Homo sapiens: one gene and its partners. The protein of the gene in region 4 interacts with the protein of the main gene of each other region in a biochemical or structural test. Each region holds a gene or a part of one and is shown on either strand. Other genes may lie near its edges.

Region 1 (7,022 bases), on a different chromosome or scaffold from region 4:
ACATCATGCTCGCCACCGTCCCACAGGACCAGCATGTGTCCCCTTCAGAAGGGGCTCTCAGGCTGCACCTGAGCCTCCCTGCATGCCCCGCTCCCCATCACTCAGGGACAAACCCAGGTCGGAGCACTGAACCACCCGCAGGTGGCAGTGGCAGCCGAAAGGACACATGGCGCTGTAGGTGGGTGTGACAGAGTCCGGGTCCAGGACGCCCGAGGTGTCAGCGCCCGAAGCTTCCTCATCGTTCATCATGAATGGCCCATCGTCCAGGGTGAAGTCCCAGAAGCCTCTCTGCTCAAAGGGCAGGGCCTGGCTCAGGGCCAGCAGAGACACGAGGCGCCACAGGGGCCACATGGCGGATGGACCTGGGGGAAGAGGCGAGGGGATCATCAGCACCAGCACCCACCTGTCTTCTCCATGCCAGGGGCTGGTGTTCCGCGTGTGTGGTGGCACTGCGTTCCCATCCCTCACCAGGGACGGCCAGACCCTGGAGCGGGAGGCGGAGAGGGCGGAGTGTGGGCAGAGGGCTCCAGGCAGGAAGGGAGTGGATGCTGCTGGCAAGGAGGGTGCCCCCTCCACTCCACTCCCTTCACTGCTTCCACTACCCCCCTCCCCATCCCGGACAGGACTTGGCTTAATCAGGCGATGAAATGTCTCCTCATCAGCAAGTCTGCAGGCCCCCACGCCTCTGAGTCTGCCAGAAGCCTGCTTTAGGGCGGGGGCGTCCATGAGGCTGCGTGGAGGAGGTGGAGGAGGAATCCTAGCCATTGGCCCTCAAGGGCTTTGAAGAATTCACTTTTGGGGACATCACTGTGGCCTCCTACCCGGGCCGATCCTTCCTTTGAGTTCTGGGCTCAGGGCAGCGTGGATGAAGTTAGTTGAGTGCGGCGACTCTGAGTTGCTTCCTCCCTCCACCCTGCCCACGTTTCTCAGAGACCCTCTAAGGCCAAGGTAGGGAGGCAGGGCGGAGAAAGAGGGGGTATCCTTGGAGGCCGTGGGTAAAGTTGGCTGAGGCAGCACTGAGTGGAGGCCCCCGAGGTGGAGGCCGTGGCGCCCCCAACACTGCCCCTGGGCCTTGGCTTCCTCCTCTGGACCACCCGCCCCAGCCCCCCGCCCACACCGCCTTGGCCCAAACAGCCCTGGAGCTCCCAGATCTGCTCGCACCCTTCCTCCCTGCCCACAGCCTCGGCAGCCCAGAGAGGCCCCCCAGGGGAGCAGGCTGCCGCCAGGGTGGCAGGGCAGGGTCAGGCTTGCCTGAGGCCCCCCAGGCCGAGGCGGCGAGTGGGAGTGGAGGCGAAGCAGCCCTGCCCGAGCCTGCCCCCAGCACCCACCTCTGCTTGCCTCCTCCCTCCTCATCAGACACGGTCTCCCGTCCAGAGGCAGCCGGGAATGTGCCCTACAGGAAGAGGCTGGAGCCCTGCCTCTCTCACCACTTCATCCACCCTGACTCTCCAGCAAAGGCCCAGGTCTCATCCCAGCCTCACCTTCCCCATCTGTTAAGTGGGAATAAACATGCCTGCCCTGCTTGCCACCCAGCCTGGGGTGGCCCTCGGTGCATCTGGAGATGGGGAGCCCAGCTGGGCAGCAGGGGCCTCTGGCAGACCTGAAGCAGTCGCACGCCCAGGAGACCCTCACTTAGGGCCAGTACTAGCTGGGGAGGGGCTGTCTGGGGCTCCAGCAGAGCGAGGTGAGCCCCCTAAGCCCAGCTGCTGGTTGCAGGGGTCTAAGGAGGCCGTGGGGAGGTGGGGGCTCTGCCCCCAGGCCAGCACCCTATGAGCAGCCCCGCCCTGCCCGATGCTTCCCCAGTTGCCCTGGGGGCTGGGCTGGCTGCCCGGGGCTGCCGCTTTGGAGTCCTTGCTACCAGCGGGCCGGGGGCCTGAGGCCACTTCAGGGCCAGGTTGGGTCTGAGCACAAGCCCAGGAGAGGGTTGGGATGGAGGCCTGTCCTGTCGCCCCCATGCAGCTCCTCGGGTGCTCCAGGGAGCATCTGCTGGCACGCGTCCCCCCTGCATTGGCATCCCCCCTAGAAGCCACCCATGCGCCCTCCCACACCTGTGGACAGAGGGGCCTGTGGTGAGGCTGTGGCTATAGCGGCTGCCAGGCCTGTGGAGTGGCCTTTCCGCAGCCAGCCCCGGAGCCCTCCTGAGCCCACAGGCCCTGGGCCACACTGCAAAGTGGGAGTCGGAGCCCAAGGCTTAGCTCAGCTTCCCCCTCATGTGGAGCTGGACTTCATGCTGACCCCTGGGGTCACCAGGAGGCCCCTGCTGGGGCAGCACCGAGCCTCCCTCATTCTTTTGAGCCTTGAGATCCCACAGTTGCAGCCCAGGGCCTGCCAGCCTCAGGCCGGCCCAGCAGAACCTAGGGGAACCGCCCGGAGGGTCTTGGCCCCCAAGTAGGGAGAAGGCTCAACACTCACCTACCTGGATGGTGTTTCCCTTCCTCCAGGGCAGGGCAGGGCCTCCGATGCCTGCTGCCGCTGTAGGACCCTCTCCCAGTGCCAGTGGACACCCGGGGGCAGAAGGAGGAGGAGGAGGAGGAGCAGTGGGAGAGAACAGGAAGGGCAGGGTGGAAGCAGGAGAGCAAGATGGAGTGGGGGAGGGAGGAGACTGCCCTGCCCCTCCTTGCCGATGCCCCTGCCAAAGCCGCTACCTCCCAGGGAGAGTGAGTCAGGGCTGGGACACCCCGCCAGAGCCCTGGCAAGCTCCAGGGTGGGCAGTCCACCTGGACAGGTAGGGTTGGGGTGGTCCGGCTGGGCCTACGGGAGGCTGTGGGGAGGGGCTGGGGAAGGCCGAGGGGACAGAGGACCATCTGACCATGGCCAGCTTGGAGCCCCCCAGGACCCACGCATTGGCCTGGAGGAGGACTCTACAGGGACTCCTGCCCCGGGGCAAGGGGTCTCCCCAGGAGCTGGGACTTCCCTGCAGGCCCTCCTGTTAGGGAATCGGGCCCTCCACCAGGGCAGGGGGCACAGGCACAGGGCAGGCCAGTCACGGCAAGACTGGCCATCGGGGTCTCAGGCGGGTTCCCGGGACCAGCTGTGGGGCAACGAGGGCTCTGGAGGCAGGCTGCCTGATACAGTAGGATGTCTGGGGGGTCTCCAAGAGACTGAGAAAGGGGCAAGGGGAAGAGGTTCCCTCAGAGCGGGGAGGGAGGCTGAGGGCTGGAAGGCCCATACACCCGGGCCCCGTGACAGAGGCAGAAGGACAAGGTTTGGCTGGTTTTCCATGGCTCATGGCTGTGCCCAAGCAGTGGGCAGGCTGGAGGGGCGGGGGCCGGGCAGGCTTCCCGGCACATCCCTCATTTCCCCTCAAAGAACTGGCACAAAACTGAGACCTCTCCCGAGGAAGGGGCAGGCTCCGTGTCTGAGCCCACAGGAGGCAGCAAGGGGCCCATGAAGTCAGAGGGAGCCAGGGGAGCCTGGGGGGAAGGATAGGATCCCCTGGAGCTGGCCTGATGAGTATCCCCATTTTATGGACACAAAAGCTAAGGCCGAGAGAGAGGCTCTGATTTCTCCCAAGTCACTCAGCCTGACTTGGAACTCAGCTTTGGCGCCTCCAGGCCCCGCCTGAGCTCTCAGCTGTGCTCCTCAGCCACAGGGCTCCAGCCATGTCTCTGGGCCTGTGAGAGCCTGAATGCCCAAGACTGGGGGTGGCAGTTTGGGAGGTCCTGGCAGTATAGGCTCAGCTGTCCTCCCAAAGCCTGGCCCCTGCCTTCTCCCCACCACCTCACACCAAGCCCCTCCCTCCTGCCAGAACATGCACACACACACACGTACACACATACACACACAAACACACACACAGATGCACACATACACGCTCACATACACACACGTGCACACGCACACACCTATACAAAACACATATGTACACACGTGCACACACACATGCACACACCTATACAAAACACATATGTACACACATCCACATGCATCCACATACATGCACACATCCACACATATACGTGCACACACCTATACACACATGTACACACATATACATGCACACACCTAGACACTCACACATGCATACCCATGTATACACATTCACATACACATATGATACACATATACACACATATATACACAGATGCACACACACTCATGCACACATCTATACACATACATGCACATGTACATCCACATGCGCACATGCATGCATGTATACACACATGCACACATGCACACATACACACATGCACACACATGCACACACACGCACACATACACATTTATACACACGTACACACACACACACATGCATACATGCACACATACATACATACATACCTGCACATATACACCTGTATACACGCATACACATATGTACACACATACATGCACACATCTATACACACATGCATACACACATTCACATATACATATGTATACATATACACATACATACACATATATCCACACATAGATAAGGCAGGCGGGGACCCCAGCCCAGGAAGCAGGAATACCCCATAGTCAGATCCTGTGAGACCCACAGCAAGTCCCTCCAGTCCTCAACTCTCCACCACCACAACTGAGGCCTCTGGGCCTCAGTTTCCCTTCATTGGCCTCTCTGGGTGTGTCTTCAGGGACTTCAGGGAGGGTTTCAAGCCCCACCAAAGTGTGCCCTGAGCTCCCTGGATACCATCTCTTTAGAGCAAAGGACAGGGGCGGCAATGGCATAAGCCCCAGGTTTGGCGACCGCAGGTGTGAGTGAGGGAGGAGGCTGGGCTTCCTGGAGCCTCCGCCACCACCCCAATAGGGCCCTCCTTGTCTGCCCCTCTGAAAGCTAGCGCAGTCCTCTGCACTGGATTGCTCGAGGTCACAGCCAAACAAGATGCGTTGGCAGCCTCTGAGAACATGGAGGGTCCGTGCCAGGCATTCAGGCCAGGCCAAGGGCGGCGGGAGCAGGGCTTGAGGTCTGGCGGGCCCTGGGAGCTCGCCTGCAGATGGTGTGGCTCACAGCTGCCAAGTGGCAGACGCCGGATGCTGTCTCCGCAGCCTCAGCCCTGGGCGTCTGCCCCCCTGAGCAACCCGACCTGAACTCTGACACATGTGCCACCTTCCACGCAGCCCTGCGGGGTCCCCGGGACTGTGTCCTTCCTCCCCTCCCCTCTGGCCTCCAAAGCCTTTTGGGCCCAGTTTCAACCAGCAGCCTGGTGCTTGTGCCCCCGCTGACACCCGGCCTGCCCCCTGCCACTCTCCCAGGCCCCAGTCCACCAGTCCCTCCCCGCCGATGGCTCCAGCCTGTACTTGGGCATCAACCAGAGAGGGGATGTGTACCCTCCCTGGCCTTGCCAAAGCCCGGCGTGTGCGTTCATCTGTGGGAGTGGCTGCCTGAGGGGCTGGGGGCTGGAGTGGGGAGGGGTGGACCTTGTGCCACATTCCAAGCCCCTGCCGTTGCCGGAGCATGCCCTTCAGGCAGCCACGCTTGGGCGTCTGCTCCCCTTGCAGCCACGTGTGGAGGGGCTGGGAAACCCCGGCTCATCTGCTGCTCAAATCCTTTCCAGAGGTTTTCTGGCAGGGTGGCGACAAGGGTGGAGTTCTCCCTTGATGCGCCCAGCCACCTCCCACCTCTCTGTGCCAGCCCTTTGCAGCCTGTGGCGCCCATGTCAAGGTCCAGCCTGTCCCCACAGTCGGCGGAGTGCGGGACTCAGCCCTTCCCACTGTGCGCTCCTGGTCCTCTGCACACGGACTACTGCTGCCCCCTCCCACTCTCCGAAGAGATCCGGGGCCTCCTGCTAGAGTCTCCAAGGAAAAGGGAGGATGCTGTCACCTCTCAGAGGCAGAGCAGGGGACTCATGTGATTTCTTTACTTAGCATCCTGCCGTCCCCCGTTGACTATAAGAAGGAAGCAATGCTCTTAGAACTTGATGAAGGGGTAAACTGAGGCTCAGGAAGTTGGCCCCAAACTCTTGCCCAAGGCCACACGGTGAGGAAACAGCAGAGCTGGGGCTGCACACACTGTCTGTCTGTCCGTCTGTGTCCTTGCCCCCATGTCTGGACCCACCCTCTCCCAATGCACACAGTGCCACAGGCCCCAAAGCTGACACGCTTCACACTCTCGGGGCTGTGCAGGGGGCTCCCCTGGAAGCATGGCCCTTCTGAGGACCATCAGTAGCTCCCTATGGCCCACAGATCCAGAAGCCCCTCCTCAGCCCCAACACAGCCAGCAGGGCAGCCCCCGCCCAGCCTCTCACCTCTGCCTCTGTCTGCAGGGAGTCTCCTGGAAAAGCCATCGTCTCCCCAGGCGAGCACTTCAGGGCCCCAGGGAAGGTGTTCCCGGCCTGCCCCCCAGAGCCTGGGGCCCTGCCTCCCTCCCTCCCTGGTACAGGCCCACCAAGGCCAGGAGGGGAGGGGAAGGTTTCCTGCAGCCCCTCCCTGCCGCAACCCGCTCTCTGCCGGGGGCTCAGGCTGGGCTGGGATTAGCCTCCTTCAGCCAGCCAGGGTGGCCCACAGCCTGCTTAGCTTCAGGCTCCTGGGACTGCTGGGCTCCCATGGGTGTGTGTCTCTTTGCATGAGGGCAGCCTCCAAGAACCATGGGATGGCAGTCAAGGCCAAGCAGGGACTCAGACTTCCAGAGGATAGAAGTCACACTGGCTTCCCAGACTTCCCCTGCCTCCAGGGACAGGGCTGCCTTCTAATCTTCTGGCCACCCAGGAGTCTGCCCGCCATGCTCCCCTTGGCCCATCTGAACACCTCAGGGACCAAACAGGACTGGGATGGCCAGCAGAGGCAAGTTCAAGAGGCCCACAGAGTCCGTTGGGCCCCTGGTCCTCCAGCTTATCTCAGGCCAGTGTTTAAGTGGAGCTCAGGCTTAAGATGCAGTGGACCAGGAGAGTTCCATGCAAGAAGGCTGGCTAGAGCCCCAGGCCCCTAAGCCTCAGAGATGAGCCTCATGGGAATGGGCAGCACCTTCACCAGGCCTGCCAGGGAGCCGGGACCTGACCCTGCCCCTTGGGCTGGCTGGGATCAGAGCTGCGCAGGTGGGAAGCTGGGAGTGGGAGGGTTCTGCAGTCCTCGGAAGAGCC
Region 2 (7,232 bases), on a different chromosome or scaffold from region 4:
CATTGGGTCGTGAAAACAGAAAGACACCGGCTTCTGCAGCCACAGAGGCCCAGCCCTGCGGCAAGAACGCGGCACCAGCTCGCAGGGATTACAGAGGGGGCCGGGCCCTGACCCGGGGGCCGCCTCCGCCCGCCCGCCCGTCGGACCGGGAGCCGCGCCTGCCCTTGGGGCCTCGCTCCGCGGGCTGCCCGCCCGGCGCACGGGCCAGGGCTCTGCGCCCAGGGTCTGGGCCGGATCCTGCCGCTCCCCCGGCCCGAGGGCAGGCGCGGGGCCCGCACACCTGGCGGAGGCCGCGGCTGAACTTTGTGTGACACACGCGGCGTTTTCCTTAAAGGCGAAAACAATCCCGGGGCGAGCGAGCAGCCCTCGGCCGCCGCTGGGAGAGAAAGTGGAGACTGGAAGAGAAACTCCTGACTCATCCGCCCGGGCGCTTATGGCTGGGGATTGGATTCTGACCTTTCGGTGCGCTCCTGCGCGGCGCCCCGCCCGGCCCCAGCTCGGGGCGCACAGGCCGCCCGCCCGCGCCCTCCCCGCGCGCGGAGGGAAGGGGCGCGATTTACCTACGGAGTCTATCTCCAGGAGTCGCTGGAGGTCCCGGATGCTGTGGATCTGACTGCGGGCCAGCCTCTCGATCACCTCGCGGGGGATCTCGGCTTCCTGCAAGCAGAGGCCACACGGTCAGCGCCCGCGGCCCCGACCCCGCCGGCACGCGCCCCCGGCCGCCAGGAGCGCCGCCGCCCCGGGCCCGAGGAGACCCCGCGAGCGCCGGCCGCAGTCCCCGCCCCAGCCCCCGCGGAGCCCTCGCCCCGGCCCTGGAACCAGAAGCCGGGGGTGGGGCTGGAAGAGACCCCAAATTCTCCACCCGCATCCATGTTCCGCCCTTTGCAAAATCAAAGCCCCCCCCCCTTTATATTTTCAGACAAAAGCCCCCGCACTCCGGCCCCTCCACCCGGGGTGTCAGTTACAGAAGGTCTAGGGGGCAGCGAGGGGGCCGAAAGTTTCTGATTTAATAGTGAGATCAACATCTAGAAAGATCAAGTTAAAATGCGTCACGGGTCGGCGAGAGTCACGGCAGCCCTAACACTTTAATCCAGGCAGGGCTTAAATTTCACGCCCCGGAATCCCGGGCCGAACCCGTGGAGAGGTCTCTCCGTCTCACAAACACACGCACGCGCGCGCAGACACACACACGCGCACACACATCTCACTCACACACTCGCCCCACCCCGGGCTCCGGCCCAGCCGCGGCCCTAGCGCCGACTAAGACGCCCAAATCCAGCCGGCGGCCGGGAGAAGAAGCCTCCAGGGAAAGCGAGGGTTAAACTTCCACCTCGCGCAGCTCTCCGTGCCCTGCGGAGACCACCCTCACCTCTGGCCTCCCCCACTCCCCTCCCCGATTTTTAAGGAGAGTCGGGGGTCGCTGGGGAGCCTGAAGCACTAAGTTCCCACGACGGGGGCTGTGGAAAGTCATTCATCACAGCAAAGCTCCCGGGGATGGGGATGGGGATGGGGATGGGGGGGCGGGGACGCCGCGGTGGGAGGGTGCGGACGCCTGGCCCAGCCCCAGCTCGCCTCGCTCAGCCACCTGTAAGCAGGCCCGGGCGGGCGGGACTGCGCCGGCCCTGAGCCCCGCCGGGCTTGGGGACTGGGAACCGAGGGCTGCAGCTTGGCGCTGCCCACCCTGCCCGGCCAGGGGCTTCCGCAGCAGCCGCCCCTACCTATTTATCCGCCGCCCTTCTCTCCTCCCCAGGCTCCGCCGGCTCACACACACCCCCTTCCCCGCTCCCCGCACCCCGCTGCTGCAGCGCCCGCTGCGCCCCAGCTCCCCTTCCCCGGAGAGGACACTGCGCCCCCCGAAGTTTCTGCCCACTCGTCCACCTCGCTGCTCCCCGGTCCCCCCGAGGCAGAGCGACCGACGCAACACGCTGGAAACTCCCCACACACACTTAGGCATGGCAGAAAATAGAACCCAGTTGGGAAAATCTAAACATCGACCACCCTGGCAGGAACCAAAACGCTCTCTGCAGAGCCCGTGGCGCCCCAGCCGGCGGGGGGTGTGCGCCGGAGGAGCCGGCGCAGGGACGGGGCGCGGGGGCGGCACCAACCTCGGCCAGAACATGGGCGAGGTATCCGCAGCCGAGGAGCAGCAGGCAAGCCAAGGTCCTCATCGCGTCCCGAGGCGCTGGCTGCTCGGAGGAGAGGCGAGGCCGCGGGGCGGGCGCTCCAGCCGGTCTCCTGTGGCGGCGAAATTCAGTACCATCCCTTAGGGAGCGCGGCCCGGAGGAGGGTGGCGCGGGGAGCACGGAGCTGGCGGAGCGCGCCCGGCGCGAGCAGTGAGTGCGGAGAGGCAGGCAGCGCCAGCCAGGAGGAGGAGAAACAGGGAGTGCGCGCCCGCAGCGCGGGGAGCCTCCTGGGCCGCCGGGTAGGGGGTGGGGACGGAAGGGGCGGAGGGCGGGGGCTGGGCTTCTTCCTCGGTGCGTTCCCGGTGCTGGCCGCCGCCGCGCTCGCTCCCCGCGCTGGCTTCAGGAGCGACCCGGCCGGTAATTCTGCATATTTGCGGACATCAGCCCCAAGAAGAACTCCGGAGGGAGTCTGGGGCCGCCGCCGCCGCCGCCGCCACACCGATCACCTGCCTGGACGCCTGGCCCGGCCCCGGCTGCGAGCTGCGAGCCGCCCTGCGCGCCCACCGCCGGCCCCGCGCTCGCCTCCGGCCTCCTCTTGCAGCCGCCGCCCGGCCGGGCACAGCGCGGCCCAGCACCCCCTCCGCGGCGCGCCCTCGGCTCCGGCGCCGCGCTCCGCCCTCCGCTCGCCGGGGCCGGGCAGCGCCCGCGGCCGAGCCGCCTGGCAGCCACCACCCGCCGCCCGGGGCCTCGCTGCGCCGCCCGCGCGGGCCTGAGGGCGGGCGCAAGGCCGAGTCGGCGCCTCCGCCGCAGCCGCCGCCGGGAGAGGAGGAGGAGGAGTAGGCGCAGGCCCGGCTCGCCGGAGTTGGGCGGGCTCCGCAGGGCGCGCGTGTGGAGCCGGCCGGCGGCGGGGAGAGGGTTATAGCGCCGCCGCCGCGCCCCTCCCCCGCCCCCGCCCCCGCCCCCCCCCCCCGCCTCCCCCGGATTCCGGGCCTGGGACCCGCACCTCGGAAGCGCTCGGGGTTCGTGCGGACCCGGCAGGGCCCGGGCGCCGCCGCCGCGGCAGGGAGCACACACGCGCTCGCGCAAGCAGCTAAATCCATCAAAGCCCCGCGCCCGGCTCCGCGCCGGGGCTCCGCGCCCCTCCCTCGAGCTTGCCCACCCTCCAGTGCCAGCTGCAATCCTGCGGCACCGGGTGGGGAGGGAGGAGGCCGCCGCAGAAGCGCCGCCGTCGCCGGCTCGCCTCTCTCGGGCCCCAGCGGCGGCAGCGGGCAGCGCCCAGAGCTGCTGCGCCAAAAAGGGCCAGAGAGCCGGTCCCCGCCCCCGCCCCGGCGCTCCGGCCGCTCTCCACGGTTCGGATCCAGGGCCCCAGCCTTCCTCTCTCCATAAAAGGAGGGGGAGTCAGTCTTTGGGGAAGGAGGGGGGCGGGTTTGGGGCACTCACCTGGCGGCTGCCACGCGCCCCCGCCCAGGATCCGAGGCCTGGGGCATCTGAATGAGGACCCTCCACCCACATTTCCACTTGGGAGCGAGCTCCAGTCGGGGAAAGGGCCTGCAGCCCGCCTCGTCCCCACCCTGGGACCCCGCGCCCCCCAGTCCCCCACTCCCGCGCCGAAGGCAGGGCCGCGCCCTGAGCCGGGAAGTCGAGGGGATGGAAGGGAAAGGAGCCACCGGTGAGGGTCCCCCGGGTTCTGAGCCTCCCGCGTCGGGATCCGTGGGGCGCACAGAGCGCCACCTCCGGCCGAGGCGCAGCTCAGAGCGCGATGCGGGGGAGGAACGCGCGCGGAGGCCGAGGTCTGAGCGTGGCTAGACGGCTCCCACGCCGAGAAAGGGCGGGTGCGCCTGGGCTGGATGGATTTCGCCTCCCTAGACCAGGAGGGATTGGACCCTGACTACAGGTCCAGGTGCTCGTCAGTGCCCTGCCAGGGGGTCTACGCGTCCTGGTACCGGGTCCAGCGGGGTGGCGTGCTGTGCAGACCCCGAGGCTAGACGGCCTAGGCCCCTGGAGCCCAGGAGACGCTTCCTTGGGTGAGCAGCGGAGAATCCCGCCCGGCCCAGCCGTCACCCCCAACCCTGTCGATTAAACCCCTGCCCCCGTCGCGGTCGCCCTCCCTCCAGACAAAGGCCGTTAAGGCGCAGCCCCGCGGGCGGTCTTTCATCCCCAGCTAGGCCAGCTCTAGCATTTCAAAGGCCGAATCCGGAGAGCGCTTCGGGGGCTCTCCCCTTCCCCCAAATATTTGGGGAGCGACGCCTCTCCCTCCGCTCCCAGTGGGTCGCGTCTACACGCGCCCTTCCACACACCTGCAGGCCCCCTCCCCACGTCTCTCCCTTCCGTTGGCCGCAGCCCCACACCACGACCCCCGCGGTCAAGCATGCCCTCTGGGTGGTCAGGACCAAGCGGGACCGGGACAGAACCAGGGGAGCCTTGGAAACGTGGAGGAGCCCCTTAAAGCCAGGCCTTGTCCCTCCAGGGGGAACTTGCGGCTTGGGAGGGGACACCCACTGCATGGCTTCTGGAAAGAGCCGGACTCGCAGGGCCAGGACGCAGGCCGGACCCCGGCCTCATTCTTCGGCCAGTTATCCCGGAGTGGCGCGCATCCTGTCTTCCTGGGCCTCGGACTGCTCGCGCGCAGAGGGGGCCCGAGGACACCTCTGTGGGGTTAGAGGACTCGGTAAGACGGTGTGGAAGGCAAGGAGGAAGGTCGCGTTGTATTGGGGATGGGGTACCCGTCCCTCCCAGCTTGAGGGATCCTGGGGGTCCTCGCCGCCTCTGAGGGCCTAGATGGCTGCTTCCCTCGGCTCCCCTGCCCGGCCTGGAGCTACGGGTGCGCCCAGCTAGAGTTTAGGGCCACCTGGGGACGTGCAAGGGGCGCTGGAGCGAGGCGGGGGCTGGGGCGGGGCGTGGGTGCTTCACCCGCGGGGGACGCAGAGCTTAGGCGAAAGCGGTGCAGGCATCTCTCTAATCGCCGGCCGCTATTAAAAATAAAACCGCGACCCGTCGCCATGGCGACCACAACAACAGCGGCCGCGCGAGGGAGGCGAAAACTTGTGCAGCCGCGCGACAGCCGCCTTCTGGGGAGACTCGGGGCACGACGCACCCGGCGTGGGACTGGGACCCCCCTGCCCGGCCCCGCCACATTCTCCGCCGGATCCCCGGAAGACACAAGGAGACGTGGACCCCCACAGGCTTTTTTGGGGGGATTGGGCGTTGAAACCGCAGGGCTGACTTAACCAAGAGGTCACCGACTTGGATAAAAAACCCACGCCCGCGCGGACCCCCCTCCCCGGCCTTCGTTTCCATTCAAACTCCCAGCGTCCTCATTGCAGCCCCTGGGGAGGGGGACGGAGGGACGAGGTGGGTTTCAGGTGCTCGGCCCAGGAGGGGACGGTGCGACCCGGGCCCCGCCGGCGGGTTTTGCGCGCGGAGGCTGCGGCACCTGCCCCGCCCGCCCTGCCGCGATCCTTGCAGACGGGGGCGGTCACATGCTTCTTTCTGGCCAGGAATCGAGTTTCACTTCCAGCCGCTATTAGTCGGTTCACACAGTTCACTGCAAACATTTGATAATGAGGCTAAATATACTCCCGCGTCGGAGGAGGCGTGGGCGTCCCCGCCCAGGCCCGGGAGACAGAGGCGCTGACCCCGGGACAGAGCCTGGCTTTGTGCGGGAGGCAGACGCGCCCCGCGCGCCGCCCCCGAAACATTCGCACCCCATGCTGAGGCGCGCGTCTGGGAGTCCGTGGGCGCCCCGAGGTGAGCCCGGGGCCCCTGGCGGAAGCAGCGGGGAGCTCCCGGCGGGTGCGGGGAGGTGCTGGTGGGAAGCAAGGTGCACCTGGCGGCCTGGGATGTCCGGTCGCCCCCGGAGCCGGTGCATCCGGCCTCTCCCGGCGCGCCCCGACGTGCCCGCGGGCTCATAATTACCGTGAGTCAGGTGCCCCAAATAGGCCGAGCGAGGGGGGCCGTCGCGCAGCAGGGGCGGGTGGCCGGACGTCTGCCCGGGACTGGTTGCCTCCCGCCCCTCCCCAAGACCCTGGCACCCAGGGAGGGCGGGAAAGGCCTTGGCCATTCCTCTGGGTAGGGGACTGGAGAGGGGAAGAAACTTTCGCCGAGTCCAGCGCTGCCCCCTCATACCCATCCCCACCCAGGCTGCGTGTCCGGGGCCCCTCCGGGGCTTGGCACCAGCAGGCACGCAGCGATCGCCGTCGTTGTTATTTAGTAGTAGTAGTAACGGCTGACATTTACAGCGACGTCGATGGCGCCAGGTGCCAAGCTCTTTCCTTGTATAATTTCATGGACACTCACGCATCAACTCTAAGCGAAGACTTGGAGCGGGGCTCAGCACCCCAGGGGTACCTCTGCAACCTCGGTAAATATAGACTATCCTCAATTCGCAGGGGCATTTGTACGTGGGGTGTACAGGCAGGAACAGGAAAGACGCTGTGGCCACCCAGGAGTAGGGGCGGCAGCCAACACCCCCTGGATCCCCAGTTCCAAGGTGCAGGGAGGGGGGCAGAGGCCAGTTCCCTCCGCTCTCTGCCCCTTGACCTTGGCCTTGGTGAGCTCTGTCCCTAGACTGCCCTGGGTGTCTGTTCCCTCATCTGAAAAGCGTGAGGCCCACAGCCGTCACTGCACACAGCTGCCGTCACTGCACACAGCTGCCTCCACTGTCGGGAAGCCTCCCTCCTGCCCACCTGCCCAGGAAAAGCTGCGCTAGCGTGCCCTGGGCAAGCGCCCTGCTGGCCACCTGCCTGCACCTGGGTTGGGGGTGGGGGGACCAGCTGAGCACCCAAATCCTGGCCTCTGCCCCCAGCGCCAGAGCAGATTTCAGAACAATTTGTAATGACGAAACCCCACGTTTCCCTTTATCTCTGGGCAAGGCTTTCTTCGTCCTAGGCAATTAATCCAAAAGCAACACCAGCCGAGTGGGCTGGACTCCTTGAAGATCAAAACTGCCCAGCGCAGGCATTAATTAAGTCATTATCTCAGGCCCCCAGCGACTAGGGATCAGGCCTTTCCAGTTCACACTCTCCAGAAAGGGAGATAACTGCCCCGCCAGCAGGGTGGGAAGGCTCTCTCTCCATGTTGTTTTAACTCCCTATTAAATCATTTTATTTT
Region 3 (7,022 bases), on a different chromosome or scaffold from region 4:
TTTCTTCCCCAGAGCCTGGGCCATCAGCAGGACACTGGGCTATACCAAGCCCAGGCAAGCACAAGGTCACCACACAGCTCAAGTGACAACACGCAGATCTGAGCCCAGGAGGTCTGACACTGACCACATTATCACAGAGAGCCACACTACCAAGCCTTAGCCAGGCCCATGGACAGGTGACAGAAACACCGTCATACTCAACCAAAATACCGGAACTAAAATGATGGGACTTTACATCATCTACGTTTCACTGGTATAATGCGCCTCCCAAGAAACTGGTTTAGAAAATTACGTCAAACAAATACATGAAGTAACTCACTCTAAACATAAAGAAGGCCAGGCGTGGTGGCTCAATGCCTGTAATCCCAGCACCTTGGGAGGCTGAGGTGGGAGGATCACTTGAACCCAGGAGTTAGAGACCAGCCTGAGCAACGAATCAAGACCTCATCTCTACAAAAACTTAAAATATTAGCTGGACGTGGTGGCACATGCCTGTAATCCCAGCTACTCAGGAGGCTGAGGAGGGAGGCTCGCTTGAGCCCAGGAAGGAGTTCAAGGCTGCAGTGAGCTATGATCATGCCATTGCACTCCAGCCTGGGTGATGGAGAGAGACCCTGTCTCTTAAAAAAGAAAGAGGCTGGGCGTGGTGGCTCACGCCTGTAATCCCAGCACTTTGGGAGGCCGAGGCAGGTGGATCACTTGAGGTCAGGAGTTCAAGACCAGCCTGGCCAACATGGTGAAACCCCGTTTCTACTAAAAATACAAAAATTAGCCGGGTGTAGTGGCATGTGTCTGTAATTCCAGCTACTCGGGAGGCTAAGGCGGGAGAATTGCTTGAACCCAGGAGGTAGAGGTTGCAGTGAGCCAAGATTGTGCCACTGTACTCCAGACTGCGTGACAGGGTGAGACTGCCTCAAAAAAAATATATATATATATAGATATATATAATTTTCCCTTAATAGAGAAATCACCCTCCATATTAACTCAATAATTTACAACATGTCAGTTTGAAGCTGTCATATGATCAGCCTTTCCATGGCATCCAGCGACTCAGCTCAGCTCTGGGAATAAGACACAGATGCCAAGAAATGGCTCCGTCTTCAGGGTCTTGTTAATAAGAAATGAGAATGAAAAGATTGTCCTGTCCCTAACAATAGAAAGTTACTGAAAAAGAACTATCACTTACGTGATTTTTTTAAACGCTCATCTAATCGTATTAATCATTTTTTTTTTGAGGCAGGGTCTTGCTCTGTTGCCCAGGCTGGAGTGCAGTGGTGCCATCACGGCTCACTGTAGCCTCGACATCCCAGCCTCAAGCGATCCTCCCACCTCAGCCTCCTAAGTAGCTGAGACTACAGGCGTGTGCCGCTATGCCTGGCTAATTTTTGTATTTTTTGTAGAGATGCCTCACAATGCTGCCAATTCCACCTTGCACCCCTGACTGATCACCAGCTAGCTGTTCTGCATATGGAGCTGAAATCTCTCTCCAGTGGCTTCTCCCCACTGGTCCTGGTTCCCCCGCTCAAGGATACGAGAAATTCGTTTGATTTCTCATCCCCAGGACAAGCTGCTCACTATCGGAAGTTGATGTGCGCGGAGCTTTCTCTCATCCAGGCCCAGATTCCTTCCACCATCCCATCCCCACATCCAACAAAGCAGGGGGCTATGGTAGCAAGACTGGAAATGGCGCTGCTCTGGATGGGGTGGTCAGGGCAGACTTCTAGGAGGAGGTGACTTCTGAGCTGAGACTCTAATGAAGAGAAGGAGCTAGGCTTGTGGAGAGCTGGGAGAAGTGTTCTTCAGCCACAGCAGTGTGTGCTAAAGCCTTGAGGCAGAAACTCCATTAGTTACTGAAAGAGGCCTGCCCGGCGGGGGTGGCACAGGTGAAGGGTACTGGTTGGCAGAGACCAGAGAGCCAGCCAGGGGCTAATCCTCATGTAGGGCTCTCAGGCCAGGGAGGAACCTGGCTTGTGTCTCAGCAAGATGAAAAGAAAGCCTCCCGTGAATTTAACCGGGGGCGGGCCTGATCCCATTTCCATTTTTAAGACCGGCCCCTGCCCCCAGCTGCTGCAGGGGAAGGGGGCTGAGGGCTGAGCCTGGAAAGGTGGTTACCTCGCTGCTCCTGGGAACCCCCCGGGCTTCGGGTCACAGGCCGTGCAGCTGCCACTGTCTCACACTTGCATGCCAGGTGGTCTTCCAGCGTCACCGTGGCCTTCTTAAAGATTGGCTTCTTCCGCACAATCTCGATCTTTCTCACCTGGAGGACAGAGCCACAAAATGCCTCTGTAGAGACCACACAGCCAGGAGCCCGGGAAGCCCGAATGGCTTGCGCTTCCCACCCCGGTGTCCCCTGCAGCAATCTTTCCTCGAAAGCCCGGAGAGCAGGCTGTGGGGCAAAAGCTTTGGCCCAAACAATAGCAGGACCTTGACCTCTGCCCTTCTCGTAGCTTTTCCATCAAAACAAGCCCTCCCGACCTGGGGCCCCCCTCAGTGCCCCCAGAGAGGGACAGCCAGAAAGGCATTTCCGGGTTGAGCTGGGGCCTGCGGTATCCTCATTCCCGGAGCGCCAGCCAAGGTCAGGGCTGCGGCAGAGGCGGGAGATGGTTGTCTGGAAGGAAGTGGGGGGAGGCTTCATCTAGGAGGGAGGTGGGAACGGGGAGGTCAGATGTCAGGTGTCCATCCATAGAGCTGGAAGCATCGAGGACAGGAGATACCACGAGAGTGGGCAGTGGGGTGGAGTGACATTCGTAGTCTCAGGCGTGGGGCCCAAGCCAGGGAGGGAAGGTGGGCAGGAGGAGAGGCCACGGGCTGGTGGCAGGAGAAGGAAGTGCGGCTAAGCAGGCAGAGCATCGGGCAAGGGCCGGTGCTGAGCTAGAGAAATGCGCACTGCCCAGCCTGTGGGCGAGGCTGGCCTGGGGCGTGCAGGAATCTTTCCACAAGAAGCAGAAGCAGCAGCTTCTCTGACTCTGCCCCGACTAGGGTGAGACCAGGGTGCTCCCTGAGACAGCCTCTACTCTAGAATTTTCCCTGAGTCCAGTGTATGTATCCCCCGTCCCTCCGAAGAAAAGCAGGATCAGCATTCCACTGTTGTCAGGGGACCTGCCCCAGCTCCGCAGTGTCTATCACCTGGTGGGCCTCTCTGCACTCTCTTTATTAAAGACACAGCTTGTCAAAGAGAGACAAGCAGGTGTCAAAGATGCAGGGCCACCCATCTGAGCCTTTCTCAAGACAGCCCTGAATAGGGAGAGCTTTGGGGGAACCTGAGTAGCTCCCCAAAACATTCTGAGTGTCAGATAAATGTTTGCGGATACGGCTCTTCAAGGGACGTTTTGCGATTTTGTCCTTGTAAAGGAGGTGACATCCCTACTTCACGTTGGCTCCACACCTCGCCCAGCCCGGGGGGTCTGTCTGTGGCTTTTGGCTACAGTGGCCTGAGCCACCTCAGAGGACTCATGGTCGGCCTCAGTCCACCTGCCTAGGAAGAGCTTCCCAAGAGTGGGCCTCTCTGGACAGAGCCCAGGAACAAATCAGGAATGTCCTTCGACACACCACTCTGCCCAGTCAAGGAAGCCTGGTCAGGTATGAGCCCCAGAAGGGTGGTCTCCACCCACCACCGGGACCAGCCTCGGGGGGCCGCGGAGCCTACGCACCTGGACAGGTCGCAGCTGCACCTGGGTGGGGCGGCACTGCACGTTGCGGTTGTTGCAGCAGCCGGAGCAGCGCTGCACCTCCACACAGGGCGGCCACACCAGGAAGTTGGCGTTGGTGCGGTCTATGAGGCGCCGGGAGATCTCGAACACCTCGGTGCGCGTCTTGCACTCGGCGATCATGGCCGGCTCAGCAATGGTCAGGGAACCTGGGAGGAGACGAAACCTGGGTCAGGAGCGTAGGCCTGTCCAGAGTCCCCCCACTTGGCAGGGGAGCTCAGCGGGTGCCTCCGGGACTGCTCTTTCTCACGCCCTTCAACCCCAGGGTTCAGGTTTCAAGTCCTGGCTGTCATTAGCCATGGGACTTGGGCAGATGGCTGAGCCACTCTAAGCCTGTGTTTCCCCATCTGAAAATGGGACCATGAGATCTACACCCAAGAACCACTGTAGTTTCAAGTGAGAAAATTCAGAGTGTGGGGCATGTTGTAAATGCTTAGTAAATGTCCGCTTCCCTCTGCTGGCACATGACTATTTTATTCTTCTTTATGATTTTACACATTTATGGGCTTGCCCAACATGTGGTTTTTATGCAGGTACCATATTAGCTCGAAACCACGCGTGCACTGCTGTCTCACGGTGCCTTGGATTCCTGCATCACTGCTGCTTTCAAAGCCTCAGCTTCCTCCTCTATGAAATGGGATAATAACAGCACCTCCCTCCCATGTGGATCTAAGGTGTAAAGTGAGTAAGCCTTGCCTACAGCAAGCACTGAGGTTACCGATGCTATCCATGTACAGAGGACAGGAGGCTCTGAGAGCTGAATATCCCGTCCGCCCACATTCATAGATTGGGGGTGGAACTCAGGCCACCTGACTTTTTTCTTTTTTTTTGAGACGGAGTCTTGCTCTGTCGCCAGGCTGGAGTGCAGTGGCGTGGTCTCGGCTAACTGCAACCTCCGCCTCCCTGGTTCAAGCAATTCTCCTGCCTCAGCCTCCCAAGTAGCATGGACTACAGGAACCTGCCACCACGCCCAGCTAATTTTTGTATTTTTAATAGAGACAGGGTTTCACCATGTCGGTCAGGATGATCTCCATCTCTTGACCTCGTGATCTGCCTGCCTCAGCCTCCCAAAGTGCTAGGATTACAGGCGTGAGCCACCATGCCCGGCCCAGGCCACCTGACTCTTATTCATCGTTCCCCCAGCCTCTAACTGCAGTGTTTTGGGGACTCCAGGTGTCAAAGAGGAGGAGGGGTTTGAGTGGACATTTGCCTCACCTGGGAGGGTTTCTCTGGGACCTAATGATCTACGGTCTCCTTTAGGTCTCTGCAAGGGAGCAGGAGGAAGTTCCAGGCTTTGCTCGAGGTCTACCAGCCTAGGCCGCGGCCCTTTGCCACAGGAGATACCCATAGCCCATCAGGGACCACGCTGGGTTCAAGTGAGGGGAGCAGGTTGGGATCTCAGCCCTACCGCTCCCTAGCAGTGTGACCTCGCCTAGTTCTTTACCCTCTCTGGGCCCCAGTTTCCAACTCTGTGAAATGGGGTTAATAATATCTACCTCCAGGATTGAAATAAGGAACGAATGAGCTTTGCAGCACTATATTTAGAAACCAGAGAGTGTGGGGGCGAGGGGCTGTGATGACTGAACACAGGCATTTAAGGATGGTTTTACTCTCTCAGTTCGCTCAGTCCTGAATGTGGGGGGAACGGGAGTTGTAAGAGGACCCTCGGGGCCCTCCGACTGGCTGCCCGCCCCCGTTCTCTTTCCCTGGCCCCCATGCTAATTTGAAGGACCCTTGTTGGGTGTCTCAGTCTTACCCAGGCTCCTTCTTCCACGAGCCAAGCTCTCCAGCTCGCCTCCAGAGTGGGAGCGGGTCATGTTCAGGTCCAACTCGGCCCCATCTTCCTCTGCAGGAGAAGTCACAGTCAGACACCAGGCGGCCCCACCTTGGGCAGGGGCTCCCTCCGCCGGGGTGTCTGGGCAGGCGGGAGGTTTGCCTCTCCCCCACTCCAGAGAACAGTCCCTCCTTCCAGCCCCCATAAATGCACGGGTCCTGGCCCTGAGCAGGGACCCTCCAAGCAGCCCCCAGGACAGCTGCAGGCCCAGGATCCTGACTGCATCCCTGGCTCTTTAGCCAACATTTTTGGCCAGAACCCATGTCAGTGGAGTTAAAAATAACCCTTCCCCTTTGCTACTGTAAGTGAACCCTCCTCGGCCTCCAGGGCGGGGCCGGGACCTAGGGCACTGAAGGCCAGTTTCCAGTGCCCCTCCACCCAGCGTTCCCATAGGAAGTGCTGAATGGAGAAATTCCCAGAAGCCCCAGGGGGACCGCATGCCCTGAACACAGCCCCTCTGGAGCCCCGGACAATGGCCGCGCTGGGCAGGCGGGAGCCACGGAGGGAGGGAGGGAGGGAGAGGGATGGGGGTGGGAGCTGAAGACAGAGAAGAGGAGAAGAGGGGTGGGAGTTGGGCCTGCTGGGGGTGGGGAGTCCCTGCCACACACCCTTCTAGGGCCTGGTCTCTCTAGCTCCGGGGCCCTCACACCGTATCTGTATCTGTGTCTGTCTCCCTCCCCTTCTCTAAACTGTTGCCCCACCTCTGCCCCCAGCCGTCTGTTGATTCCTCTGGTCACAAATGACAGCTCCCTTTTCTAGCCTGGGCACCATCTCAGTCCCATCAGCCCTCCTTGGAGACATCGGTCCTTTCCAGAGCCCATGGCCAGAGGTTGGCTGCTGGGAAGTGAGGGCTGAGGGAGGCCTCTGAGCTGGATGTTAAGGCGTGGACAGACCCTTCTGTCTCTCTCATGGGTGAGGAGCCACAAATAAACTAAGGGGCATTGGGAACACGCTCCTGCCACCTCCACACAGCACCCCATGGCTCCAGTTCTGGCACCGACCCACTGGCCCCATCCAAGACAAAGGCGCCTGCCGCCTGTCCGTCCCGGGTACTGCAGGGAGTCTGATGACTAGTCCGCTTCCGTCCAGCCTGACAGCCCCTACGTCAACGAGCCTATCTGTCCCTCTGGCTCCTTTCCTTTCTCCCTGCCATCTCTGGAATGTCCCTGGTGGGGAGGAGATGGGGAAAAGATGCGCTTTGTGGAAAGGTTAAGTTGATTAGGAAAAAATAGCCACATGGTTGCCTTGAAACAGGCCTGCTATTGAAACCTCATCTCCAAGATCCCGACCCCCACCAGGGGTGTGGAGGGGCCGTCTGAGGGTGGGGGTGTAAAGGCTTGGAAAGAAATGGTAGAAAGGCTAAATTTGGAAGTTGCCCCATTGTGTGTGGCCAGGGGCGGCCAGTCGGGCATAGGGTGGGGGTTGTGGGAGACATCGGGTGGGGGCCCTGGCGAACAATAGGTGGGCCCAGCTGGGGCCCC
Region 4 (7,022 bases):
TCTCCCCAGAGGTTGTGAGTGGGGCTGAATCCATCCTTTAGCCTGCCTTGGTCTTTCCCAGGGACCAGCCTAACTCTGAAGCTGCGGGGTGGGGGGGCCAGCCACCAGTCAACTCATTAACATACAAAGACACTTATCACTTCGGATTCCAAGAATTTCAGGAATTGTATGCCAGGAAACAAGAGGAAGACCAAAGATCTACTTCACAGCATGAAATCTTATGATATGGCAGTCACTCATTTACCAGTATCGTGTCTGCGACCTTCACAACACAATAAAGGAATACGTTATTATCCCTCATGGATAGATGGGGAAACTGAGGCACAAAGAAGTTAAGAAGGTTGCCCAAAGTCAAACAGCTAGTTGCTGTTTGGGCAAATAAATTTATTTTTATTAATTTTATTATTAAAATCCATCACTAAAACTGTCATCAGGAATTCAAATCCATCTCATCTGACTCCAGAGTCTGAAACTGATGCCTTTTGCAGTCTCAGAACTTAAATGAAAAGATTTGGAGCCAGAAGAGAACAGTGCAAGTGCTAAATTTTCAACGTAACATCTATCATACCATTACCAAAATTATTCTCACTTTAACTCAGGCACATGTCCGAATGCAAAGTATAAGAACAATTCCAACCACCTGCATATTTCCTAATTCAGAGTAAGCGCTGAACACACACTTACTGAACAAATTTTAAAGGCCAAAAGCAAGATACTGAGCTATCAAACTATTACTTCCTACTTTGTTTTCATGTGAATTCTTACTCTTGTTTTACTTTCGCTGATGTAAAAAAAAAAAAGAGAGAGAGAAATGGGCCTTTGGTTACAAATTGGCTTCTCGCCTAGGACAATACCCAAAGTTATTTATGTTTTAAATAAATGATCTAGTCAAGAGAAAAAAAAATCCATATATCATAATATATTAATTGATGATAACCTCCATGGAAAAAAGAGAAAATATCTATGATCAACATGAAATAATAAAGAAGTATGAATTATAGAATTTTTTAAAAAAAGTTTTAAAAGCCTAAATTCCTGAAGAAATACAATCTTATTATTTTCAAGTATTTGGGAAAACAAAATCTAATTATTATGGAGGCGCCCAATGGCTATTTAGTCAGACTAGACAGGCTTTAACAATTGATAAAAAGCATCTGGCGCTAGCATAATGTTTACATGAAAAACATGTTTGTTAAAGATAAGCTAGGAATGAGAAATCTTTCAAGAAGATCGCCCACTACATATCCTACGTAATAAAAACCGTGTCATCCCCTTTTCCAGTTAATATTATTGATTCTGGACCGGGTTTGTGTATGTGTCCGAAATAAATCGGATGCTGAGGCTGAACTAACCATTCCGTGGATGGTATTTTCCCCCATCACTGACCCATTTTCCTGCTTTGGTAAGTTTATCTTCATTGTATAGGCCATTTCCGGACCAAAATTTAGGAGTTATTTTAAACCACTAACCTTCAACCGTCTTTTATCTCTAGAAACCGGATTTGGCGGTCGTTAAGAATTCCTCACCAGGAAGCCGAGTGGCCGGGCCTGGAGGAGGTGGGAGGGAGGCAGAGGACCCATGTTCAGAGTCCTGCGTCCCAGCGCCCGCTGACTGGCTCTGCCCTGGGTCGGCCTCTGAGCTAGGGCGCTGAGCGCATCCTGCCCAAGTGTGCAAGCTCGCAGGCTCGCCGCAGAGGATGGCAAAACTCAGACTGAAAGCAGATCAGTTCTGAGACACCCACGCCAGGCTCCCGAAGAGGGGAGAAAGCCACGGAGGGCAGAGTCTGCTCCAGGCACCGCTGTGCTCATTTACCATCAGCCCAGCCCTCTCCAGATCCACTCAGGAGCCTCCACTTCCTGACACGCCACATGCATGTTTCTGGAACCTTCCTCCCCCGCCCATCTGACCTTCCAAACTGCACCACACAGCTGGAACCGGGATTGCGGGCAGGAGCAGAAATCAACGGAAAAAGAAGACAAAGAGAACGGGGAGGGCCATGTTACACGCAGGGGTTCAGCCTCAAAGTGAGTGCAAACTAACGTCCCGACACTGCAGGCCTGCACCTAAGGCTGCTCAAGCGGCGGCCTCAGTGAAAGAAGTCGGGCTGTCAGTAGCCGCACCCTCACCTGCTAGAAATGCAGATTCTCGGCATACCCCACACCTCCAAAAACAGAAGCTCTGGAGCTGTTTCGTGGAGCCCTCCAGCTGATGCTGCTGTGAGCTCATGTTGGACAACGGCTGAAGGAGATCCTTGTGTGGGCCCTTCCAGCCCCAAGGGGTCTTGATGTCATTACTTTGCTGTTTATGCTTCTGAATTTGTCTTTAATTTAACAGAGTAGTGCCTGGCACAAAGCAAGCTCGGTATAAATGCTTCACAGACATTAACTCACTTAATCCTTACATTTGCTCCCTAAGGAAAGCAACTGCCCTCATCCCCATCATACACATGAGGAAGACCAGGGCCCACACATTTCCCTGCAGGGCCTGTGACTGGTGCACAACCAGTGTGTCCCTGGACTGTCTCCTCTCTGGATGTAGTTGAGACGTTGCCATCGCCTTTCCAAAAAGTCGTGTGCACGTCTGACCCGTTAATGCCAGCTTCTTTGAGAAACAGACTTTTCTTTTGCCAGACTAATCGTAGGGTCCTTAGTCTGGTGGTAGCAAATACGTCACACACAACTCAGTATTAATTCTGTAACATTAAAATGGCATTGCATTCTTTAAAAAACTCTAAAATGCAACTCAAAAATTCAAGCTAATGATAAAAAAGAGTTGCTTATATTTTAAAATGACATTTCAAAGCTGGTGCTCTTGGATGATATGAAAATAAATGCCACTGTGCTCAGAAATCAGGCATTACTTGCACACAAGGGAACTGCGGATCTGAAAATAAATTTTGATTGTTTTATATTACATAGTAATATACATATAAATAAAGCATTATTAGAGATGTAATAGCCAAATCTTCCACCAATTAGATTAGATATTAATATTGTTTATTTAATAAATATGAAGGAAACAATACCAAAATGGTTATCATTGAGTTTATCTGTACAACGCTGAAACAGAGAACAAATACTGACCTAGTACCTTCAAAAATGCCCCATGTGCTGAATGTGAGGATTAGGCAAGGTTTATCTTTGTGCAATGAAGACACATAGTATTCTCCTCTGAACGTGCATCATCTGTCATTTTCTTCTGAATGTGGATCATCTCTAGGGATGAGTGTGGCTGCTGGGAAAAGTTTGTGGAAATAGCTTTCAAAACATTGAATTACAGCTGGAACACACTGGGTTTTGTTCTTCACAAAGGAATATCCTTGTTTTCTAAAGCAGAAACTTAATAAAATCTTTAAACAATTTTAATTGTGTCCAATACAGGAATAGTGTGCCTCCAGATCTTCTGCTGAATTGAGCAATGTTTATTTAAGTTAGCTGCACTCTCTATGAGTGAATACACAAATGGCTTCCCCAATTGTTGGTGTATTTGGTGAAATGAAAATAGAGCAACTGACATCAAACTGGATGCTTCCAGCTCACGGCCAGTATCTCTGGCTGTGGTCCTTGCTGGAATCAGTGGCCACAGTACACTAAGATGTGTATGTGTATGTATTACTAAACAATGGTAATTTTACAACTGAACAATGTACTGATTCTAAAAGCAACAGAAGATGAGGAGGTTGAATAGCTCTCCTTTATCAGGTAAGAGGTACAACAACAGAAACACAAAAGCCCAAGTGGCCTGGAAAAGATTGCTTTAATATCTGATTTGGACACTTGGCATTTGTCTTGTACCTTAAAGATCAAGTGAGCTTTAAAACTCAGATAAAATGAAATGTTTTTATAGTATGCAGATTAAAAACCAAATCCAGCAAAGCTTCCACAGAGAAAATTACTAAACCACGGAATAAACTATTTACATAAAGTGTTCAGCAGTGTACATATTTCCAAGTCATGTTTAGTCTGTGGTGGAATATCTACTCCAAATTCCAAATTAAGGGGAAACACCTTCGTTTGCCCAGATTCATCTTTGTGTTCACTAGTAATACCACAGGGGTGGACAGTGTAAGCCAGCAGGCAGCTCCCTCTAGGACACTCCGGGGGTGGGGAGGGGGCTCCCAAGAGAATGGCAGCTAGAAAATTGGAACCAATTACAAGTAATTAATTCCTGATTTCCTCCTCTGTGTCGGGCACTCTCCCAAACATGGTGGGATGCTTTAAAAAGAAGTTATGTCCTGGCAAGTGTTGGAACCAAGACACAAATGACAATGTAACTCCAAGCCATGTGGCAGCAACCACAACCAGCACCGCTCGAGTGCTTACTTCATGTGCACATGCTCTCCCTAGACATGGCGACTACCCTCACTGTATGTATTAGAGACTCCAAGCTCAAAGAGATTACAATGCTACTGAATGGCAGAGCAAGAATTGCAATTTAGGCTGGATTTTTTAAAATCCAGATAGTCAACAATATTTCACATTACCACTCTGACTCGAGAGGGGATCACGTGGAAAAGGGGCAGGCTGCGAACTGTTTCAGGAGCTTCAGTGGAATGCGTGCTAGCCGAGGGAAGACGAGAGGACACTGCAGGCCGGGGAGCAGGAGAAGATGAAACAGCTTCTGTGGAATGCAGAGATTATCCTTCCTTACAGTTACCAAAGCCGTATGTCGAGGAGTAGCAAGGAACGAGGCCAGAAAAATTTGACAGATCCGTACCACAAAGGGAATGCACAGCCAAGCCAAAAAGAGGGGGAACCCCAGTGAGATAGTAGGTGGCCATGGCAGATCCTGAACCAGCAAGTCTATGACCATAACTTAGGGAATTGAGGGCAATTAGCCTCTCACAGCCTGAGGAATGGGCTGGAGAGCACGAGAGCTGGGAGGAGGGGCAGGGCCATGAGGGTTCAGTGGTGATCCTGGCACAAGGCAAAGAGAGCTGGAAGGGAGTCCCAGCCGTGGGAAGGGAAAGCTGCGGGCACCTCTGGGAAGCATCCAGAAAGAAGTAGGAGACTTTGTGACTGAGCAGATGCAGAGGATAAAGAAGAGGAAAGGCTAAAGCCTCATAGTCTCTGGGCTCTGTACCCAGAAACATCAGAGGGCACCAGGACCAAAATGGCAGAGTCGGGAAGGGTTGTCAGTCCAGGTAAAAAATGAGTTCAGTCCTGAACATATTTGCTCAGTTTGAGATCAAAGCAAGACAGCCAAGGGGAGGCGTCGCGTGGAAATGTGAAGACGTTGAACTGGAGTTCAAGAAGGAGTTCTGGAGTCCCCTTCAGGGAGTAATGGTGCATCATGGAGCAGACCCCCAGTGGAAGTTAGAGAGTGCAAAGAACAAAGAGAACCACGCAGAGCTGCCCCTGCAGCTCACCCACACTGAGGGGCATGGGAAGAGGAAGAAGACAGAAGCAGAGACACGGAAAGAGCGCTAGGAGGGACCCATGTCCCAGAGTTAGGACCAGGAGAACAATGGAGGGAAACGAGGCTGGAACCAGCTCACTGTGTACCAGACTATCAAAGTCTTCACCCCAAAGTCATTCCTACAGTGTCAAAAGACTCAGAAGAAATTCACCATTAAAACATGCTCTGGTTGACATCCCTTTTCATTGTATGCATAAGAATGGTAGGAATATGTCTTTTGTATTGTTCTATAGTTGACATTTTTTCATGGTTGCTTAATAATAGCAGGAAGAACAATGCTCTAACATTATTTTAGGCATTCTATTGTTGCTTGAGCTGACTCTAGCCCAAGAACTCAAAATACCAAACCTCCTTGTGAGACATTTTAATGAGGTTAATCCTTCTTCAATTTGGGGAACAATTATTATAACAAATATCATAGAATTCATCAAAACCACTGTTGTCATTTAGCCACTTCTTGATGTTCTTCCACTGTCTACAAAGGTTTGTCTTAGATCATCACTGGTGGGTTCCATTTGTCTGCAAAATCTTTACCAGCTCTTAACTAAATAACTGAACTTGTTATGACCATCCTTGCCAGTTCTCAGAAATTTGCCAACAGCCTTGTTAATGAATAATGTAGGGTTTTGTGAATTCCCTCATGGCCTGGCCCAAGTAAGGGTAGGTTTTCTGGGTCAGTTCCTAAAGGCACTCCTGACTAGAATCAGTCATCCATGCCGCAACTTTCCAAACATCCCCTGCCTGCCTACCTGCCACCTCCGAGAAAAGGGACAGGACCACATACTGGGGCCTCAGTTGGAGCTGGGAGCTCTTTTTTAACACTGGTCTCCTAAACCCTGCCCTTCCAATTCTTTCCACCCCTCTGAGAGCAAAGTTCAGCCACCAAGATTGTTAATCACAGAAACAATGACATTTTGGTATCTCAAAGGAGCAAACTTGAAGGTCATCTTTCAGTGCAAAGACCCTTAGACTTGAGAGCAGACAGGCAGAATGACCATGTCTTCTGTGTATAGTACACCATCACAGTGCACATGGAAATGACATGCTGGTGTATAGTTCCTATTTCTCCCTCATATTTCAGAGGCGGAAGCCCCTCCCAGAAGTTTCCTCTGAGTTCCCCAAAGCTGGATTCAGTGTTCCTATAGCCCTTCGATTCCCCTGATTGTGACATTTACCAGCCTGACTTGGATTCGTCTGTTTCTTTTCCAATATTTCTCACCTGACCTTCCTGAGGACAGAGAGTGGGGGTGAGTCCCTGCCGCATGGCCAGCACCTGGCAAGGTCATGGCAGGAAGGAGGTGTTCCCGATGTGTGTGTGGAATGAAGGAAGGCACAAACGGGTCCGTGTGAGGAAGGGACAGACCTGCCAGGGAAACTGAGGTATAGAGTTTGATGAGTACCCCCAAATCATCTGCTTAAAAGCAGGTATAAAATGTAAGGTCCTCTGGTGCCTAAAGCACACTCATCCTGTGTACACGTGACTATTAATAATATATAGCATTGATAATTCTGTGAATCTAGTCAGAGTACATGAACATTGTGTCTTCTGGTTGGTCTTAAAGTTATGTCCCTTCACCCTAGTCCAATTCCATCTATTAATATAA

What was found.
Region 1: the proteins of COL4A1 (region 4) and BGN form a complex in vitro, tested with the Homo sapiens proteins (one study listed by BioGRID).
Region 2: the proteins of COL4A1 (region 4) and PDGFA form a complex in vitro, tested with the Homo sapiens proteins (one study listed by BioGRID).
Region 3: the proteins of COL4A1 (region 4) and PDGFB form a complex in vitro, tested with the Homo sapiens proteins (one study listed by BioGRID).

What each region holds. Positions count from the first base shown.
Region 1 is NC_000023.11:153,497,961-153,504,982, reverse strand, and holds part of BGN (biglycan preproprotein), read right to left. Parts: intron 367-7,022; exon of another isoform or gene 363-366; 5' UTR 352-362; coding exon 114-351; intron 1-113. UniProt on the Homo sapiens protein: May be involved in collagen fiber assembly.
Region 2 is NC_000007.14:516,834-524,065, forward strand, and holds the start of PDGFA (platelet-derived growth factor subunit A isoform 2 preproprotein), read right to left. Parts: upstream 3,014-7,232; 5' UTR 2,236-3,013; coding exon of another isoform or gene 2,169-2,235; coding exon 2,106-2,168; intron 1,497-2,105; exon of another isoform or gene 1,472-1,496; coding exon of another isoform or gene 1,370-1,471; intron 1,155-1,369; exon of another isoform or gene 1,026-1,154; coding exon of another isoform or gene 966-1,025; intron 658-965; coding exon 561-657; intron 1-560.
Region 3 is NC_000022.11:39,227,972-39,234,993, forward strand, and holds part of PDGFB (platelet-derived growth factor subunit B isoform 1 preproprotein), read right to left. Parts: intron 5,554-7,022; coding exon 5,464-5,553; intron 3,857-5,463; coding exon 3,651-3,856; intron 2,258-3,650; coding exon 2,113-2,257; intron 1-2,112. UniProt on the Homo sapiens protein: Growth factor that plays an essential role in the regulation of embryonic development, cell proliferation, cell migration, survival and chemotaxis. Potent mitogen for cells of mesenchymal origin.
Region 4 is NC_000013.11:110,297,136-110,304,157, forward strand, and holds part of COL4A1 (collagen alpha-1(IV) chain isoform 1 preproprotein), read right to left. Parts: intron 1-7,022. UniProt on the Homo sapiens protein: Type IV collagen is the major structural component of glomerular basement membranes (GBM), forming a 'chicken-wire' meshwork together with laminins, proteoglycans and entactin/nidogen.